Linked DNA regions of Homo sapiens: region 1 is linked to region 2. Evidence: fine-mapped expression QTL. A gene starts in region 2. The other region holds a variant in brackets. All regions are shown on one strand. Distances are from middle to middle.

The links. PIP is the estimated chance that this variant, and not a neighbour inherited with it, causes the effect.
Region 1: its variant is fine-mapped to the expression of GPAA1 in whole blood (TOPMed, PIP 0.91).

Annotation. Positions count from the first base shown.
Region 1 is chr8:144,102,641-144,110,648 of GRCh38, forward strand. SHARPIN (SHANK associated RH domain interactor) reads right to left here and starts at 1,133. Exons shown (of 9, transcript NM_030974.4): 1 at 913-1,133; 2 at 411-585. The coding sequence starts at 1,113. MAF1 (MAF1 negative regulator of RNA polymerase III) reads left to right here and starts at 1,821. Exons shown (of 8, transcript NM_032272.5): 1 at 1,821-2,218; 2 at 3,000-3,126; 3 at 3,229-3,357; 4 at 3,436-3,601; 5 at 3,703-3,824; 6 at 3,915-4,034; 7 at 4,195-4,323; 8 at 4,448-4,971. The coding sequence starts at 3,044. The coding sequence ends at 4,469. It overlaps WDR97 (WD repeat domain 97), which reads left to right and starts at 5,099. Exons shown (of 24, transcript NM_001316309.2): 1 at 5,099-5,222; 2 at 5,419-5,555; 3 at 5,676-6,304; 4 at 6,409-6,530; 5 at 6,695-7,394; 6 at 7,474-7,616; 7 at 7,701-7,937. The coding sequence starts at 5,111. RefSeq lists silencers at 875-974, 985-1,264, 2,025-2,264 and enhancers at 1,325-1,374, 2,126-2,420, 6,042-6,572. The variant C/A (reference allele first, on the strand shown) is at 4,742.
Region 2 is chr8:144,079,020-144,087,523 of GRCh38, forward strand. GPAA1 (glycosylphosphatidylinositol anchor attachment 1) reads left to right here and starts at 3,615. Exons shown (of 12, transcript NM_003801.4): 1 at 3,615-3,785; 2 at 4,105-4,284; 3 at 4,370-4,481; 4 at 4,695-4,842; 5 at 4,920-5,021; 6 at 5,115-5,311; 7 at 5,394-5,590; 8 at 5,703-5,856; 9 at 6,024-6,119; 10 at 6,270-6,460; 11 at 6,554-6,724; 12 at 6,863-7,197. The coding sequence starts at 3,712. The coding sequence ends at 7,106. EXOSC4 (exosome component 4) reads left to right here. Exons shown (of 3, transcript NM_019037.3): 2 at 924-1,130; 3 at 1,223-1,629. The coding sequence ends at 1,582. MIR6847 (microRNA 6847) reads left to right here and starts at 855; the gene lies at 855-923. It overlaps LOC124902038 (a long non-coding RNA gene), which reads right to left and starts at 3,548. Exons shown (of 2, transcript XR_007061141.1): 1 at 3,102-3,548; 2 at 1-2,362. RefSeq lists a silencer at 3,697-3,946.

The DNA.
Region 1 (8,008 bases), 23 kb after region 2:
CACTGCAGAACTCTGTCTTAAGCAGGAGGTATCTGAGTCTGTCACTCTCCCACTCCTGTCACTCTCCTGCTGCTCTTGGGATGATGTCTTCTCACACAGGTCCTGACCCTGCCTGCTCTGCCTCTTCATGCTTGCCTCTCATCCTTCCTGAGGGTTAAGGAAGTGCAGGCTGAGGTTCCAGGGCTTCCTGGTGGAGGCTGCAACTTGTGCTGGCTGGGGCCTCAGATGGTGTAGGAGACTGACTCCAGCAGCCACTCCAAGTACTCCAAGCTACTCCAGGCTCCACCTACTCCCTCCTGGAAGCCTTCCCAGACATCCAGCAGTGGGGAAGGTGGATCCAACTTCCCCAACCAGGACTGGGGGGCCAAGGCTATTCCAAATTGTAATTGTATCCATTACAGGGCACTGACCATTCTGTCCTTCCACGGTGGCACCTCGGACTAGGACTGCCCACCGCTGAGCTTCCTGAGGGTTGAGGAAGTGCAGGCTGAGGGTTCCAGGCCCTCCTGGTGGAGGCTGTAGCTCGTGCTGGGTGGGGCCTCGGATGGTGTAGGAAACTGACTCCAGGGGCCACTCCAAATTAACCTGAGAAGAGGGAGAGTCCAGGCTCAGGGCGTCCCCCCGCCCTACATCGCACGAGGAGCAAAGAAATACAAGGTAACATTTATAGACCATTTACACGGTCCTAAGCCCTGTACGCCTATCATCAAATCCTCACAATAGCCCTGTAAAGTAGGTCCAGGTAGGTCCCAGTAGGTCCGAGCGTCACCCCCATTTCACGGACGAGAAAACAGAAGCAAAGAAACATAACTGCTTAAGGGCACCCAGGTGGCAAGCGGAGGGGCCTAACTTTGGGCTCCGTGCCCTGCCCGGGCCAAGAGGACTGACCGCGCGCCCTCCGCCCCCACTCACCGCCCCAGGTCCCGCGCCCAGCAGCTCCAGCCGGAAGCGCCCAGGCCGCTCAGGGTCCGCGCTCAGCTGCAGCCTCCGCAGCTGTGCCTCGGCGTCTGGCCCGGCGCCCAGCGGCCTCACCGCGGCGTGCACAGCCAAGAGCACTGCGGCGGAGCCCAAGTCCGAGGCCGCCGCCGCCGCCCCGCCCGCTGGCGGCGCCATCTCCGGTCCGGCCGGGTCCCACCCCTCCGAGCGCGCTTCCGTGGGATCGGGCCGCTGAGCCCCCTCCGCCGGTCGGAAACACGGGCCGCGAACCTGGGGTTCCGGGCGCGCCCAGAGCGTCGGGCCTGGGACGGCGCCGAGTGGTGCACTCTGGCCAAGCCTGCCCCGCTGGCTTTGCCCACAAATGGACACGGCCCGAGGGTCTCCGGACACCGGCTGGGCGAGGCTGGCGGCGTGTACGAGGCTGGGGCAGGGCGGCCGAGGCGCTCACGTTAGAGCTGGTCTTTGGGGGCGAAGGGTCAGGGGGCGAAGCACCGGCCACAACTGAAGGCGGACGCGGCCTCTTCGCCCCAGGGGCTCGGCGGACGTAGATGCATCCAGCGTGCGACTATCCCAGCGCCTAACGGCAGCTGGACTTCGCTCCCGGGACCTCCAATGGGCTGCCACCTTCGCCCGCAGACCCCAGCCCCCGCCACGCCCACACGTCGCACTAGGTTGGCCCGCGCCTCACTGGTTACGGGGTCGACCCCCCTAGGGGGCGGAGCTAGAGAGGCCACGGCCAATGAACGCCGGGGGTAAGCGGGTTAGTACGACGAGAAGAGTGACAGACAGGCTCCATAACCAGTAGACGTAGAAGGCAGAACTGAGTGGCGGGTACGGCACCCGATGGCTATTCGAGCTCTCGATCTCGGAGACTGGAGCGGGCCATTCAGAGGCGCGGGGCCGGGCCCGGCGGACGCTTGTTGTTGTCCGGCCGGGGGAGGCGGAGGTCGCTCGCTCGCTCGCTCGGCTCGCTGACTCGCCGGAGCGCTCTGTGGCGGTCGGCGGCAGGTCGGTCGCGAGAGCGGGCTCTGTGGAAGGGGGCGAGGCTATGTCGCGGTGGCAGCCCGGATGGGCCGGCAGGGCCGGGAGTAACGGGACGTCGCCGCGGAGCTTCTTCCCCCGGATACAGTGCGGCCCGAGCGGAGGCCGCGGCGCCGCCCTCCGATCTTGAAGAGCCCGCGCTGCGCGGAGCCCGCCCCCGCCTGCGCACCGGCACCGACGCGGAGCGACCCAGCCCAGCCAGACCCGGCCCGGCGCGGCCTGATCTAACCCAGCCAGGCAGGTGGGTGTCCGCCCTGCGTCCCGCGCCGTCTGCGTACCCGGAACCACAGCCCCCAGCAGGCCTCGCGCGGCGCGCTGCCTCCTGGGATTTGTAGTTCCACCGCGGCTTGGCTGGTGCCCGACGTGGCCCAGGCGGGCGCTGCCTGGTGACTGCAGCGCCCCAGCGGGGCCGAGGGACCGCCCTCCTAGGCGTCTGGAGAAACTAGGCAATTTTTCCGGGTAGAGTGGAGGAACCTGTAGTTTTCCTCTCCCCGGGCCAGAAAGTAGCCAAAACGAAAGAGCGCCCGCCCAGGTGACCGCAGGGCCCGGAGTCCCAGGTGTCCTGGTTCCTAACCGGGATGCAGCCTCTTACCTTGGCTGAGGAGCCCAGCCAGCCTGAGGGAGACTGCAGGAGTCACGTCCCGTTGCGGACTCAAGAGTTACCCCCATGGTGGCTGGAGCTCTTTTGGAGTGGGCGTGGAGATGGGGAATGGGAATGTTGAGCAACAATCTCAGCCAGCAGCCCCAGGGTGAGCAGGGTCCCCGGTGGTCTAGTCTAGTCCCAGAACTCGCGTGTTCTGCAGGGGGTATGGCTGACCTGGAGCCTGGACTTACCACCCTCAGGTAAAACAGGATCTCTGTCACCTCTCCTGGCCGGGCAGAGAGGGGAGCTCCTGATGTGCAGCCTGGACAGAGGCCAGACTCAGCTTGTTCCTAGCGGCTCCACTTAGTGGGTAGGAGGGCTGAAGGCAGGGCCCCAAGGGGCCAGATAGATACCCATGGTCTGGTCTCTCACTCCCCAGGCAATACTAGCCCCTCTGGAGCACGGAGCTCCTTCCCCAAAGACATGAAGCTATTGGAGAACTCGAGCTTTGAAGCCATCAACTCACAGCTGACTGTGGAGACTGGAGATGCCCACATCATTGGCAGGTGAGGCAGGCTGGGGGGGCTGGCATCTCGGAGGTCACACTGCCGCGCCCTTCAGTGGAACCTGGGGGAAGCATGCTTCATGGTTCTCTCTGCATCCTATAGGATTGAGAGCTACTCATGTAAGATGGCAGGAGACGACAAACACATGTTCAAGCAGTTCTGCCAGGAGGGCCAGCCCCACGTGCTGGAGGCACTTTCTCCACCCCAGACTTCAGGACTGAGCCCCAGCAGGTGAGCCATGGTGGGGCCTACCTGGGGCTGGGGGTTGAGGGGAGGTGATGGGCCCAGCTGATGGTTCTGTCTGTGCAGACTCAGCAAAAGCCAAGGCGGTGAGGAGGAGGGCCCCCTCAGTGACAAGTGCAGCCGCAAGACCCTCTTCTACCTGATTGCCACGCTCAATGAGTCCTTCAGGCCTGACTATGACTTCAGCACAGCCCGCAGCCATGAGTTCAGCCGGGAGCCCAGCCTTAGCTGGGTGAGGGTCAGGTGGAGGGAAGGGACCCACAGCCACCCCACTGTCCTTCCCCACTTTGGGTAGCCCTGGGCTCCTGTCACCCTGACTGTGACCTGCCCTAGGTGGTGAATGCAGTCAACTGCAGTCTGTTCTCAGCTGTGCGGGAGGACTTCAAGGATCTGAAACCACAGCTGTGGAACGCGGTGGACGAGGAGATCTGCCTGGCTGAATGTGACATCTACAGGTGGGCCGGCATCCCTGCAGATGGCCTCCAGGCCTCCAGGTTTGTGGGGCACTTGGCGCCTCACACCACCTGTCACCCTATACTCCCCAGCTATAACCCAGACTTGGACTCAGATCCCTTCGGGGAGGATGGTAGCCTCTGGTCCTTCAACTACTTCTTCTACAACAAGCGGCTCAAGCGAATCGTCTTCTTTAGCTGCCGTTCCATCAGGTGGGCACCCCCCGCCTCCTCCCCCACCTCCCTGTTGGGCCGATACAACTTCCCCAGCTGTGCCATCTCCACCCAGCTTTGCCCTCCCTGAACATCCTCCCTGGGGCCAGCAGCAGGCCTGGGTAGGGGTCCTGAAACTGGTTTCCCTGCCTCCCCTCAGTGGCTCCACCTACACACCCTCAGAGGCAGGCAACGAGCTGGACATGGAGCTGGGGGAGGAGGAGGTGGAGGAAGAAAGCAGAAGCGGGGGCAGTGGGGCCGAGGAGACCAGCACCATGGAGGAGGACAGGTGTGTGATGGGGGCCATGACCCGGGTCCTTGAAGCCTGGAGTGGGTACAACAGGGTGGGGGCCTCCTCTACTTGGTCTAAGTGGTGGCTCCTGAAGGCCCACTGTGTGCCAACCTCCGCCCAGGGTCCCAGTGATCTGTATTTGATGAGGAGGAGCCGAGGCCCCAGCTTCATCCAGCTTCAACCAATGCCTGGACCTGTCCACCTGAGAGGCCCCTGGGGCCTCCCCAGCTGCTGGCCAGACCCTGGCGCTGCCACAGTCCTGGCACTGCCCAAGGCCATACCTGCCTAGCCCTTTGGCTCCATCCTGTGGATGCCCACTCACCCCTCAGACTCCTGCTGCCCATGCTGTGGCCGGACTTGTCAGCAGGGGGCCTGGTGGGAGGAGCGACTGCCCTGCCCAAATGAACTGCCACAG[C/A]AGGGACAGCTGGACCGCAGAGTTTATTTTTGTATTTCTACTGGGCCTGCACACTCCAGCCCAAAGGGTCTGTGGCCGGAGGCCCCACGAGCAGGCCCCAGCAGTCACCGGCTCTGGTCTTGGGCCGGCCCCGGTGCCCACCTGTACCCCCACCTCGCCCATTTGGCCGCGTGCACTGAGTGTCACTTTGCTGCAGCTCGTTTCTTTCCAATAAAAGTTTCTGTGACTTAGTGTGGACCTGATGCGGTGTGGGGGTGGGGCCTGCGGTGTGGGAGTGGCCGGCGGCATCTGGTATCCTAGCAACTGCCGCTGCGGGCCGTGACCGCTAAGTCCTGGGAGCTGTTGGGCTCTGGGACCGCAGTTGCTGAAATGGAGGCAGAGGTGTGGGAGGCAGAAGGCTACAACCTAGTTCTGGACTCGGACCTGTATGATGCGGATGGCTATGATGTCCCAGACCCTGGGCTGCTCACCGAAAAGAATGGTGAGGGGGCCTGGCCTCGCCCTCCGGGCATCCCGCTAGGAAGTGGGTCTCATTCGGGCTTGGGTTCCGTCCCCTGGAACAAAACTCCCCTGGGCAGTCCCTGGTAGGGCAGGGCCCCTGGAGGAGGGCTCCCCATAACCGTCAGGGTCGAGGACCTGAGGCTGTAGGTGGCAGAACTTCCAGTTCCTGCCCGCAGAGTTGACTTTCACGGAGCCGTCGCAGGTCCTGCCCTTTTTGACCAGCAGCCAACAGTGGCAAAGCCTGACCCCGCGCGCCCGCGCCCGCCGGCTGTGGCTGCTTCTGCGCACCAGCCTCCACGAAGTCGTGGAAAAGGTGCGGTGTGCCTGTCCTGCGCCTCCTGGCCTCTTTCCGGATCTGGGCCTTCCCTTAGGGGTCCCCTAGGCCGGAGTAGCCCCAACCTTTGATTGCGGGCCCGCCCACCCCGGCCCACAGGAGAAGAGAGCCGAGCTGCGCGCGGCGCGCCTGACGCATGGGCTGGAACCACTGCGCCGCCTGGAGGTGGCAGCCGGGCTGCGCTCGGTGGCGCAGGACCCGGTGGGTGGACGCTTCGTGGTGCTGGACGGCGCGGGCCGCCTGCACCTGCACAAGGAAGACGGCTGGGCACAGGAGACGCTGCTGGCGCCTGTCCGGCTTACGGGGCTGGTGACCGTGCTGGGCCCGCTGGGTGCCGTGGGCCGTTTTGTAGGCTGGGGCCCCGCGGGGCTGGCAATTCTGAGGCCCAACCTCAGCCTGCTGTGGCTGAGCGAGCAGGGGGTGGGCAGGGCCCCGGGTTGGGCGCCCACCTGCTGCCTGCCGGTTCCCGACCTCAGGCTGCTGCTCGTTGCGGAGATGAACAGCAGCCTGGCGCTCTGGCAGTTCCGTTCAGGTGGTCGCCGCCTGGTGCTGCGAGGGTCAGCACTGCACCCGCCCCCGAGCCCAACAGGCAGGCTCATGCGTCTGGCTGTGGCGCCGGTTCCTCCCCACCACGTCCTGCGCTGCTTCGCGGCCTATGGCTCGGCCGTGCTCACCTTCGATCTGCATGCCTGGACTCTCGTAGATGTGCGCCGGGATTTGCACAAAACGTGAGGGGGATCCCCCTAGGGAGGGCCAGGCATGTAGGGGCACACGGCCCTCACACACAAGGCGATGTTAAGTCCATTGGGATTCTCCCATTCCCCACCTGTAGCACCATCTCGGACCTGGCTTACTGCGAGGAAGTAGAGGCAATGGTGACAGCTTCCCGGGACAGCACCGTGAAGGTGTGGGAGGCTGACTGGCAGATCCGGATGGTGTTCGTGGGCCACACAGGTGCTCTGAGTTCTCTGCACCCCGAGCCTCGGCCCTTTGCCTCCAGCCGCTCTAGGCTGTCCAGCATCTCCGCAGCTCCGGCCAGGCCTTGCTGCGCTGACTGCAACACAGGCTGAAGGCTCCCCTGCCTTCAGTCGGCCGAGTGACCTGCACCCCTCCCACAGGCCCGGTGACGGCTATGACTGTGCTCCCGAACACGACCCTGGTGTTGTCGGCCTCGCAGGACGGGACGCTACGCACCTGGGACCTGCAGGCGGCGGCGCAGGTGGGCGAGGTAGCGCTGGGCTTCTGGGGCCAGGACAAGCTGTCCCGGCGCGTGGGCCGTCTGCTGGCGCCGGTGCGCCCGGGCTGGCCGGTGCTGTCCCTGTGCGCGAGCAGCATGCAGCTGTGGCGCGTACGCGAGCTCTACTCGCCGTTGGCGCAACTGCCCGCCAAGGTGCTCCACGTGCAGGTGGCGCCCGCGTTGCCCGCGCCTGCGCACCAGTCGCTGCCTACGCGCCTCGTGTGCGCGTGCGCCGACGGCTCGGTCTACCTCCTGTCGGCGGCCACCGGGCGCATAGTGAGCTCACTGCTGCTGGAGCCGGAGGACTGCGCGGCAGCCGTGGCCTACTGCCTGCCGCGCGAGGCGCTGTGGCTGCTGACCAGGGCTGGGCACCTGGTCCGCGCCAACGCGGCGCGCTGCCCCATGAGCGTGCTGCACCGCGTGTGCCCGCCGCCGCCCCCTGCGCCGCAGCCTTGCTGTCTGCACCTGTACAGCCACCTCACGGATCTCGAAGGCGCCTTCTCCTCCTGGGAGATCGTGCGCCAGCACTGGGGCGAGTTGCGCTGCAGCTCTGTGGCCTGCGCCTGGAAGAACAAGAACCGGTGGGTGCGGGAGCCGGCGAGGGTCTGGCGGGCGGAAGGAGCGGCAGGGTCCGCGCCAACAGGCTCTTCCCACTCGCAGGTACCTGCCAGTGGTGGGGCACACGGACGGCACGCTGTCGGTGCTGGAGTGGCTCTCGTCGAAGACTGTCTTCCAAACGGAGGCGCACAGCCCGGGCCCGGTTGTCGCCATCGCATCCACCTGGAACAGCATTGTGTCTTCGGGTCAGTAGCTCCCCTGCCAAAGGCCAGGCCGCCACAGAGCCCCCTCCCCTCCGACAAGGCCCAGCCAGATTCCGCTGCCCACAGGTGGGGACCTGACGGTGAAGATGTGGCGCGTCTTCCCCTATGCCGAAGAGAGCCTGAGCCTGCTGCGCACCTTCTCCTGCTGCTACCCGGCCGTGGCGCTCTGTGCGCTAGGCAGACGCGTCACCGCGGGCTTTGAGGACCCAGACAGCGCTACCTACGGCCTGGTGCAGTTTGGCCTGGGCGACAGTCCGCGATTAGACCACCGGCCCCAGGACGACCCCACGGACCACATCACTGGTGAGGGGGCAGCATGGGTGAAGCCCAGCCACCGCCCAGCTCCGGTTCCTGACCCTGAACCCTGCCGCCAG
Region 2 (8,504 bases):
GCTCAGCACCGCATCTCACTCGGAGTAAACGCAAGTCCTTAGTGTGCTGCGCGGTGGTCCTGCCTTTCTCATCGGCCTCTGTCCCTGCGCCCTCCTTCCTCTTTGCGGCTCTTCAACGTGCTAGGCACTCCCCCACTCGCTCCCTCTCCTTTCAGCTCTACTCCGACGTCACTCCTTCCCAGACGACCTTATTATCCACGCGGTACTTCTCGCCCTACAATAAACCCTTTGTTTTGTGCACCTACAATCTCAAATGCCTATTTTGCTTAAGCATTTTCCCCTTTGTTTCCTCGCTGGAACATAAGCTTCCTAAAGAAAGGAACTTTACATAAAACTATCTGGTTTCATTACTGTGCTTCCAGCGCTGTAACTGCCTGGCCAGCGAAGGTATTGAAAGAGTGTTTGCTTAGCGCATGAGTGTGGGAGCTCTGCTTTCCAGGCGGAGGGAACCAGAAGGGCGAAGACCACGGTGGTGAAAACAAGCAAGGCACTTATGCAGAGCAGAAAGACTGCTGGTGGGGAAAGAGGGGATAACTCCAAATCAGGTTGAGGGTTCCCGGGGAGGTGAGGACTTAGGGTTTTGTAGAGTAGGGAAATGATTTGGGATCTTATTTCATATGTAATGTGAAACCTTTGTAAGGTAGTTAGGATTTGAGTGTGTAGGTGAGACAGAAGCAGCGTTGATGTTTGTAAACTTGGGTTGGCAGGGAATGGGGCAAGGATGGACACAAGGAAGCCAATTAAAAGGTGCCAGAGGGCGACACATGCAAGACAGAGAGCGCAAAACAGGGGGCTTTGTTTTGGAGGTAACGCAGTTGCCCCTTGCTGAGGCATTGAAAGTGGAGGGAGAGGCAGACCCACAGAGGACAGTGGAGTGTGAGCTGGAAGGAGTGGGCCTGGCTCATGTGTCTGTCCTCTTCCAGATCCGGGGCTCCCGGGCTCGAGCCCTGCCGGACAGGGCCCTAGTGAACTGTCAATATAGTTCAGCGACCTTCAGCACAGGTGAGCGCAAGCGACGGCCACATGGGGACCGTAAGTCCTGTGAGATGGGCCTGCAGCTCCGCCAGACTTTCGAAGCAGCCATCCTCACACAGCTGCACCCACGCTCCCAGATTGATATCTATGTGCAGGTGAGCCAGCTGCAGCCGTCAATCCAGGGAGGGAAGGGTGTGATGGGGTTGGGGAGGGAGTCTGATAGACTGACACCCTGGGTTCCCTGCAGGTGCTACAGGCAGATGGTGGGACCTATGCAGCTTGTGTGAATGCAGCCACGCTGGCAGTGCTGGATGCCGGGATACCCATGAGAGACTTTGTGTGTGCGTGCTCAGCTGGCTTCGTGGACGGCACAGCCCTGGCGGACCTCAGCCATGTGGAGGAAGCAGCTGGTGGCCCCCAGCTGGCCCTGGCCCTGCTGCCAGCCTCAGGACAGATTGCGCTGCTTGAGATGGATGCCCGGCTGCACGAGGACCACCTGGAGCGGGTGTTGGAGGCTGCTGCCCAGGCTGCCCGAGATGTGCACACCCTCTTAGATCGAGTGGTCCGGCAGCATGTGCGTGAGGCCTCTATCTTGCTGGGGGACTGACCACCCAGCCACCCATGTCCAGAATAAAACCCTCCTCTGCCCACACACCCCTCACTGTACGTTATCACCTAACAGCACTTCAGAGCCATGTGAAGGCTGGCAGAGCCTGGTCTGGTGCTGGCTCCTGGGGATGATTAGGGACCCTCGCCCACACATGAACGGCCTATCTCTGTGTAGCCTGATTCAAACCCTGAAGAGAACAGTGGATTAGGGGGTTTCTGTAGGGGAGGCCCTGGGTGGAAAAAGCAGCATGTCCCAGTAAGGACTCAAGGCAGCTGAGCAGGAGGCAGGGCCTGGCAAGATGAGCCAGGCCATTAGACTGAGGAATCTGTTACCCTTATTCCAGCACATCGGGGGCCCTGAGCAAAGGGCTGAGGAAGAACTCAGCTGGCTCTGGGTACCCACCCTAGGGATGTGGGGGCCATGTCCCACAACCTCTGGACTATGGTTTGGAGCCCCCTGGGCTTTTCCTGCTGCTTACCTTGGGCTCTGAAAGTACAACAGCCAGGCATGGTGGCTCACGCCTGTAATCCCAGAGCTTTGGGAGGCTGAGGCAGGCGGATTGCTTCAGGTCAGGAGTTTGAGACCAGCCTGGCCAACATGGCGAAACCCCGTCTCTACTAAAAATACAAAATTAGCTGGGAGTGGTGGCACATGCCTGTAATCCAAGCTACTCAGGAGGCTGAGACAGGAGAATCTCTTGAACCTGGGAGGCGGAGGTTGCAGTGAGCCGAGATTGTGCCACTGCACTCCAGCCTGGGCGACAGAGCAAGACTCCATCTAAAAAAAAATAAAAGTACAAAAATTACCTGTTCTCATGGATCACTTGAGGTCAGGAGTTCGAGACCAGCCTGGCCAATGTGGTAAAACCCCATCTCTATTAAAGACACAAAAATTAGTGTGGTGGCAGGCACCTGTAATCCCAGCTACTAGGGAGGCTGGGGCAGGAGAATCACTTGAACCAGGAGTTGAAGGTTGCAGTGAGCCAAGATTACACCACTGCACTCCAGCCTGGGTGACAGAGCAAGACTCTGTCTCAAAAAAAAAACAAAAAAAAACTTGTTCTCACATGGAGTCTTCAGCTTTGACCCTTCTCTCTGCCCACCACTATTTTGTTTGTTGAGACATGGTCTTGCTCTGTGCTCAGGCTGGAGTGCAGTGGTGTGATCACGGCTCACTGCAGTCTGGATCTCCCAGGCTCAAGTGATCCTCCCACTTTAGCCTCCTGAGCTGAGACTACAGGCATGCCCCACTCACCTGGCTAATTTAAAAGGAATTTTTTTGTGTGTACAGACTGGGTCTCATTTCGTTGTCCAGGCTGATCTCAAAGGATCCACCCACCTCACCTTCCCAAAGTGCACCCTCTTGAGCAAACTCCCCCTTCATTCACCTCTGGCCCACCGAGCCCCGACTACCAGTCCCTGCAGTCTGGACCCTGGGACTGCTTCTCCCCTAATATTCCACGGATCTCCTGGCCCGGACAGTGACAGTATGATCCCCCACTTTATAATGCACACACCCCAGCTCCAGTGAAGCCCGTTTTGGCCAGTAGTGCCATCAGCATCTTCTCTGCAGTCATCTGACTCTGAAAACCTCGGTGCTGGGCTCACGCTGTGACTCCACTGGGACGTCCTGAGTCATTGGCAGTCTCGCTTGGCATCCATTCTCTGACCGCCGCCGGCTTTCCACCCACCTGCCCGGCTCATCACCTCTGACTCCTGCGGGCCTTCCAGCCGGCGCTATCTCGCAGCCCCCGACCAGCTCGGCCTGCTGTCGGGCATCTCTGCTGTCCTCCGGCTGTAGGGCTACCTGCCTCCCTCCCGGGGGGTGCACTGCGAGTCCGACTCTAGTGGGGGCAGCGCCTAGCGGACTCCCAAACCCGCTCAGGTCCTGCCGGCCTCACCGGCACCGCCCACCCTCCAGCCGGCCGCGGCTCTGCGCTTGCGCGCCGGCAGCACACAGTGTTAGGGGCGCGCCCTCTGCTCTGGACATGCGCGCCGTCGCGAGCGTCTCTGGGACCGGAAGTGCGGGCGAGCGCGGGTCCCCGGGTCTGACAGGAGCAGCCTGTGGGCACCGCGGCGGTAGTTGGAGGCGGGAGAGGGTCCGTAGCCGCGCCGCCCTGCCCCGCCATGGGCCTCCTGTCGGACCCGGTTCGCCGGCGCGCGCTCGCCCGCCTAGTGCTGCGCCTCAACGCGCCGTTGTGGTGAGGACAGGGCCCGGGGAGGCGGGGACCCGAGGGCCCTGGGCTCGCGCCGGCGGCCCCATGCGCGGTCCCCATCGAGGGCCGGGGCCGCTCCAGCTGCTCGCGCCCCTCCGGCTGCTCGCGCCCTTCCGCTCCTGCCCTCTGGAAGCACTGAGGGTATCAGGCCCAGGCTTAGGGCTCGGGTCCGGCGTCCCGATGCAGGACTCCGGGTTTAGGTCTCCCAGACCCGCGCGATCGACCCCGGGTGCGGAGGTTGTGGCCTCGGGTCGGCGTCTGAGGACCCGCTGACGCTCCGGTGCCCCTCCGTCCTCTCTCACAGCGTGCTGAGCTACGTGGCGGGCATCGCCTGGTTCTTGGCGCTGGTTTTCCCGCCGCTGACCCAGCGCACTTACATGTCGGAGAACGCCATGGGCTCCACCATGGTGGAGGAGCAGTTTGCGGGCGGAGACCGTGCCCGGGCTTTTGCCCGGGACTTCGCCGCCCACCGCAAGAAGTCGGGGTGAGCGGCAGAGCAGGGCGTATGGGGCGAGCAGTGGTGGCTAAGGCCGGGGAGCTCTGCTCAGAGGCTCCCTTCGTGTCTGCAGGGCTCTGCCAGTGGCCTGGCTTGAACGGACGATGCGGTCAGTAGGGCTGGAGGTCTACACGCAGAGTTTCTCCCGGAAACTGCCCTTCCCAGATGAGACCCACGAGCGCTATGTACTGGGGGAGTGGGGTGTGCCTGGGCCCAGAAAGCACCTTGGAGGGAGGGGTCTGGGCTGGGTATCACCTTGCGGGGGTGTCATGGGGCCAGGAAGCTCAGTGGGAGGGAAATCCCTGGTGGGCACTGGAGGGCTAGGAAAGTTGTGGGGGGCCCTTCAGCCCCCTACCACAAAGTTACACTGAGGCTCCCCCCACCGATGCTGCATACAGATGGTGTCGGGCACCAACGTGTACGGCATCCTGCGGGCCCCGCGTGCTGCCAGCACCGAGTCGCTTGTGCTCACCGTGCCCTGTGGCTCTGACTCTACCAACAGCCAGGCTGTGGGGCTGCTGCTGGCACTGGCTGCCCACTTCCGGGGTGAGTCTCAGGGCTGCTGGCCGTGGAGGGGTTTGGTCAGTGCCCCAGACCCTGCTGATCCTGCTTCTGGCCTCCAGGGCAGATTTATTGGGCCAAAGATATCGTCTTCCTGGTAACAGAACATGACCTTCTGGGCACTGAGGCTTGGCTTGAAGCCTACCACGATGTCAATGTCACTGGTAGGTTCTCTTGTCCTGCCTGCCCTGGTCCCCCTCTCAGGGTCACTGTCCTCACCACGTCCTCCATTAGCACTCATTCACTTGCTCCTACAGGCATGCAGTCGTCTCCCCTGCAGGGCCGAGCTGGGGCCATTCAGGCAGCCGTGGCCCTGGAGCTGAGCAGTGATGTGGTCACCAGCCTCGATGTGGCCGTGGAGGGGCTTAACGGGCAGCTGCCCAACCTTGACCTGCTCAATCTCTTCCAGACCTTCTGCCAGAAAGGGGGCCTGTTGTGCACGCTTCAGGGCAAGGTGGGGCTGCCTGCCTGCCTGAGGGCTGAAGGGCACAGGGTCTGTGGGAGGGGCTGTCTCATCCTGTCCTGCACCTCTAAAGCTGCAGCCCGAGGACTGGACATCATTGGATGGACCGCTGCAGGGCCTGCAGACACTGCTGCTCATGGTTCTGCGGCAGGCCTCCGGCCGCCCCCACGGCTCCCATGGCCTCTTCCTGCGCTACCGTGTGGAGGCCCTAACCCTGCGTGGCATCAATAGCTTCCGCCAGTACAAGTATGACCTGGTGGCAGTGGGCAAGTAAGTAGTCTCTGGTCCCCCCTTTCCATGCCCAGGATGGGGTCTAGCTGGAGCGGAGTGGGGGATGGCCTGGTGGCTCTGGCCAGCCGTGAACCTGCCCCACACCTGACAGGGCTTTGGAGGGCATGTTCCGCAAGCTCAACCACCTCCTGGAGCGCCTGCACCAGTCCTTCTTCCTCTACTTGCTCCCCGGCCTCTCCCGCTTCGTCTCCATCGGCCTCTACATGCCCGCTGTCGGCTTCTTGCTCCTGGTCCTTGGTCTCAAGATATCCTCTGCCCCTTGCCATCTACCTGTGACCAGCCTCCAGTCTCCTCAACTCTAGGCTGGGGAGAGTCTTCCATCCTGATGGGGGGTGGGGTACGGGGGTGAGCCCTGGGTCCCCCTCTGGGCAGATCCCGTTACACCTCTTGTTGGGGTCCTTGATTGGGCTACGCTCTGGAACTGTGGATGCAGCTGCATGAGGCTGGAATGGGCCTTGAGGAGCCCGGGGGTGCCCCTGGCCCCAGTGTACCCCTTCCCCCATCACAGGTGATGGCACCCCCTTCTGTTGTTGGAATGGGCTTCTGGGGTCTGACTGGTGTTTAGTGTTGCAACTTAGCCTCAGCTGGTGGGATGGTGGTGGTCTTTGGGGATCCCCTGGCCCCAGGGTCCATCTCCAAGAGCCTGTGTGCCCTGCAGGGTGTGGGGCTGGCCTCGCTCGTGGCACCTCTGCTGATCTCACAGGCCATGGGACTGGCCCTCTATGTCCTGCCAGTGCTGGGCCAACACGTTGCCACCCAGCACTTCCCAGTGGCAGAGGCTGAGGCTGTGGTGCTGACACTGCTGGCGATTTATGCAGCTGGCCTGGCCCTGCCCCACAATACCCACCGGTAAGAGGCTGGGCTGGTTGTTGGGGGCAGGGGTAGAGGTCCCCTGGACATGCAGACAGCTTGTGGGTTGCCTCTGAGTCCTTTGTCTTACAGGGTGGTAAGCACACAGGCCCCAGACAGGGGCTGGATGGCACTGAAGCTGGTAGCCCTGATCTACCTAGCACTGCAGCTGGGCTGCATCGCCCTCACCAACTTCTCACTGGGCTTCCTGCTGGCCACCACCATGGTGCCCACTGCTGCGCTTGCCAAGCCTCATGGGCCCCGGTATGTATGGATCAGCCCCACTTCCCCCAATGCCTGTGCCCTCATCACAGACCGCACCCTCATTCAGTAGCCCTTTCCCCCAACCTGGTGCCCATGCCCCCACCATGGAGCCTACCTTGATGTTGCTTCTCCACCCAGGACCCTCTATGCTGCCCTGCTGGTGCTGACCAGCCCGGCAGCCACGCTCCTTGGCAGCCTGTTCCTGTGGCGGGAGCTGCAGGAGGCGCCACTGTCACTGGCCGAGGGCTGGCAGCTCTTCCTGGCAGCGCTAGCCCAGGGTGTGCTGGAGCACCACACCTACGGCGCCCTGCTCTTCCCACTGCTGTCCCTGGGCCTCTACCCCTGCTGGCTGCTTTTCTGGAATGTGCTCTTCTGGAAGTGAGATCTGCCTGTCCGGGCTGGGACAGAGACTCCCCAAGGACCCCATTCTGCCTCCTTCTGGGGAAATAAATGAGTGTCTGTTTCAGCAGCTATTTGAGCTCCTGGCCCGCTGTCCGTGTAGGGCCCCAGGGCATGGGGGTGAGAAGCCTCTGTCTGCAGGGCTTGGCATTCCTCACACCTCCTCCCTGGCAAGGGCTGCTGTAGTCCACTTACTGGGTAGCATTCCTGCCGACCAGGGCTCTGCTGCTGCATCAGGTGCACTCTCAGCCCTGGCGGGTGCCATGCAGGCTCAGAGGGCTGTGTGCATTGCTCTGTGGTACTGTGCCAGGAGCGGTGCTGGGAAGGAGAATACACCATAGCCATGGTTTGAGGGCCTGCCAGGAGCTGAGGCACCCAGAAACCACCTAACACCATCTTTACTGCTAGGACTGAGGCTGGAGCTGGAGCCCTGCAGAGGAGGCCCAGGGTGCATGGCATGGGGCCCAGGCAAGGCCATCGCCTTGGTGTGGGATTGGGATGGAGCAGGGAGGAGCACCCGGCCTGGCTTCCTCAGAGTTGAGTCAGCCCAGGTGAGATGCCCACGAGGGGCTGGGCAGGCAACACAGTGGAGCCAGGACCCAGGGGCAGGCGGGGCACGGGGACAAGAGCCCCACGGGAGAGGGCACTGACAGGCCAGCAAGGAGAGAAGCAGGCTGTTATACTAGGACTCTGAAAGGAACTGGGAAGACCACTGTCTGTTCCAAAAGAAAGGAAAAACCTGTGGCCTTTAGGTGATGCCAGGGCCATGTCAGGGACCTTGGTGCTGCGGCTAGAGAGCCCTCTGGTCACAGGAAGGCAAAGGTGCCGCAGCCACACAAAACCATGCACAGGCCTCAGGAATCAGAGCCGTGCTGCCTGGAGAAGCCACAGCATCTTAGAATCAACTGAGGGCCAGGGTCCTTTCAGTACAGTGTCCCCAAATGGCCTGTTGTCTGGGAGGTTCCAAGGAGGGTGCCCTCCCTGTGCCCTACTCTGTAGGCCACTGCCTCTTCACTGGGTTATGTCTTCCTGCGGGAGGCTCCCCTTGACATGAGACCCCTGGTGTTGGGGGTTAGTCTATTGATGGGGCTCCACAGTTGGGGGATGGGTGGAGGGCTCCCAGGGTGAGCACCTAGGCGACTTCCAGAGTTTCTGCAGAGGAAACACATGTCTGCTGGGTGGGCTTACGTTCTCTGTGTCCAGCATTATTCGAGGCTTAGTGGGGATGAGGGGGTATCAGGAACCCCACTGTGACTGGTAGCCTCATAATTAACTTGCCTGTCTTCAGCCCCCTTGTCCCAGAGGTTGGAGTCTCTAGTCACTTTCTCCAGTGAATACTTCCTCTGAGGTTGGGTGGACGCCTGCAGTCCCCACCCTAGCC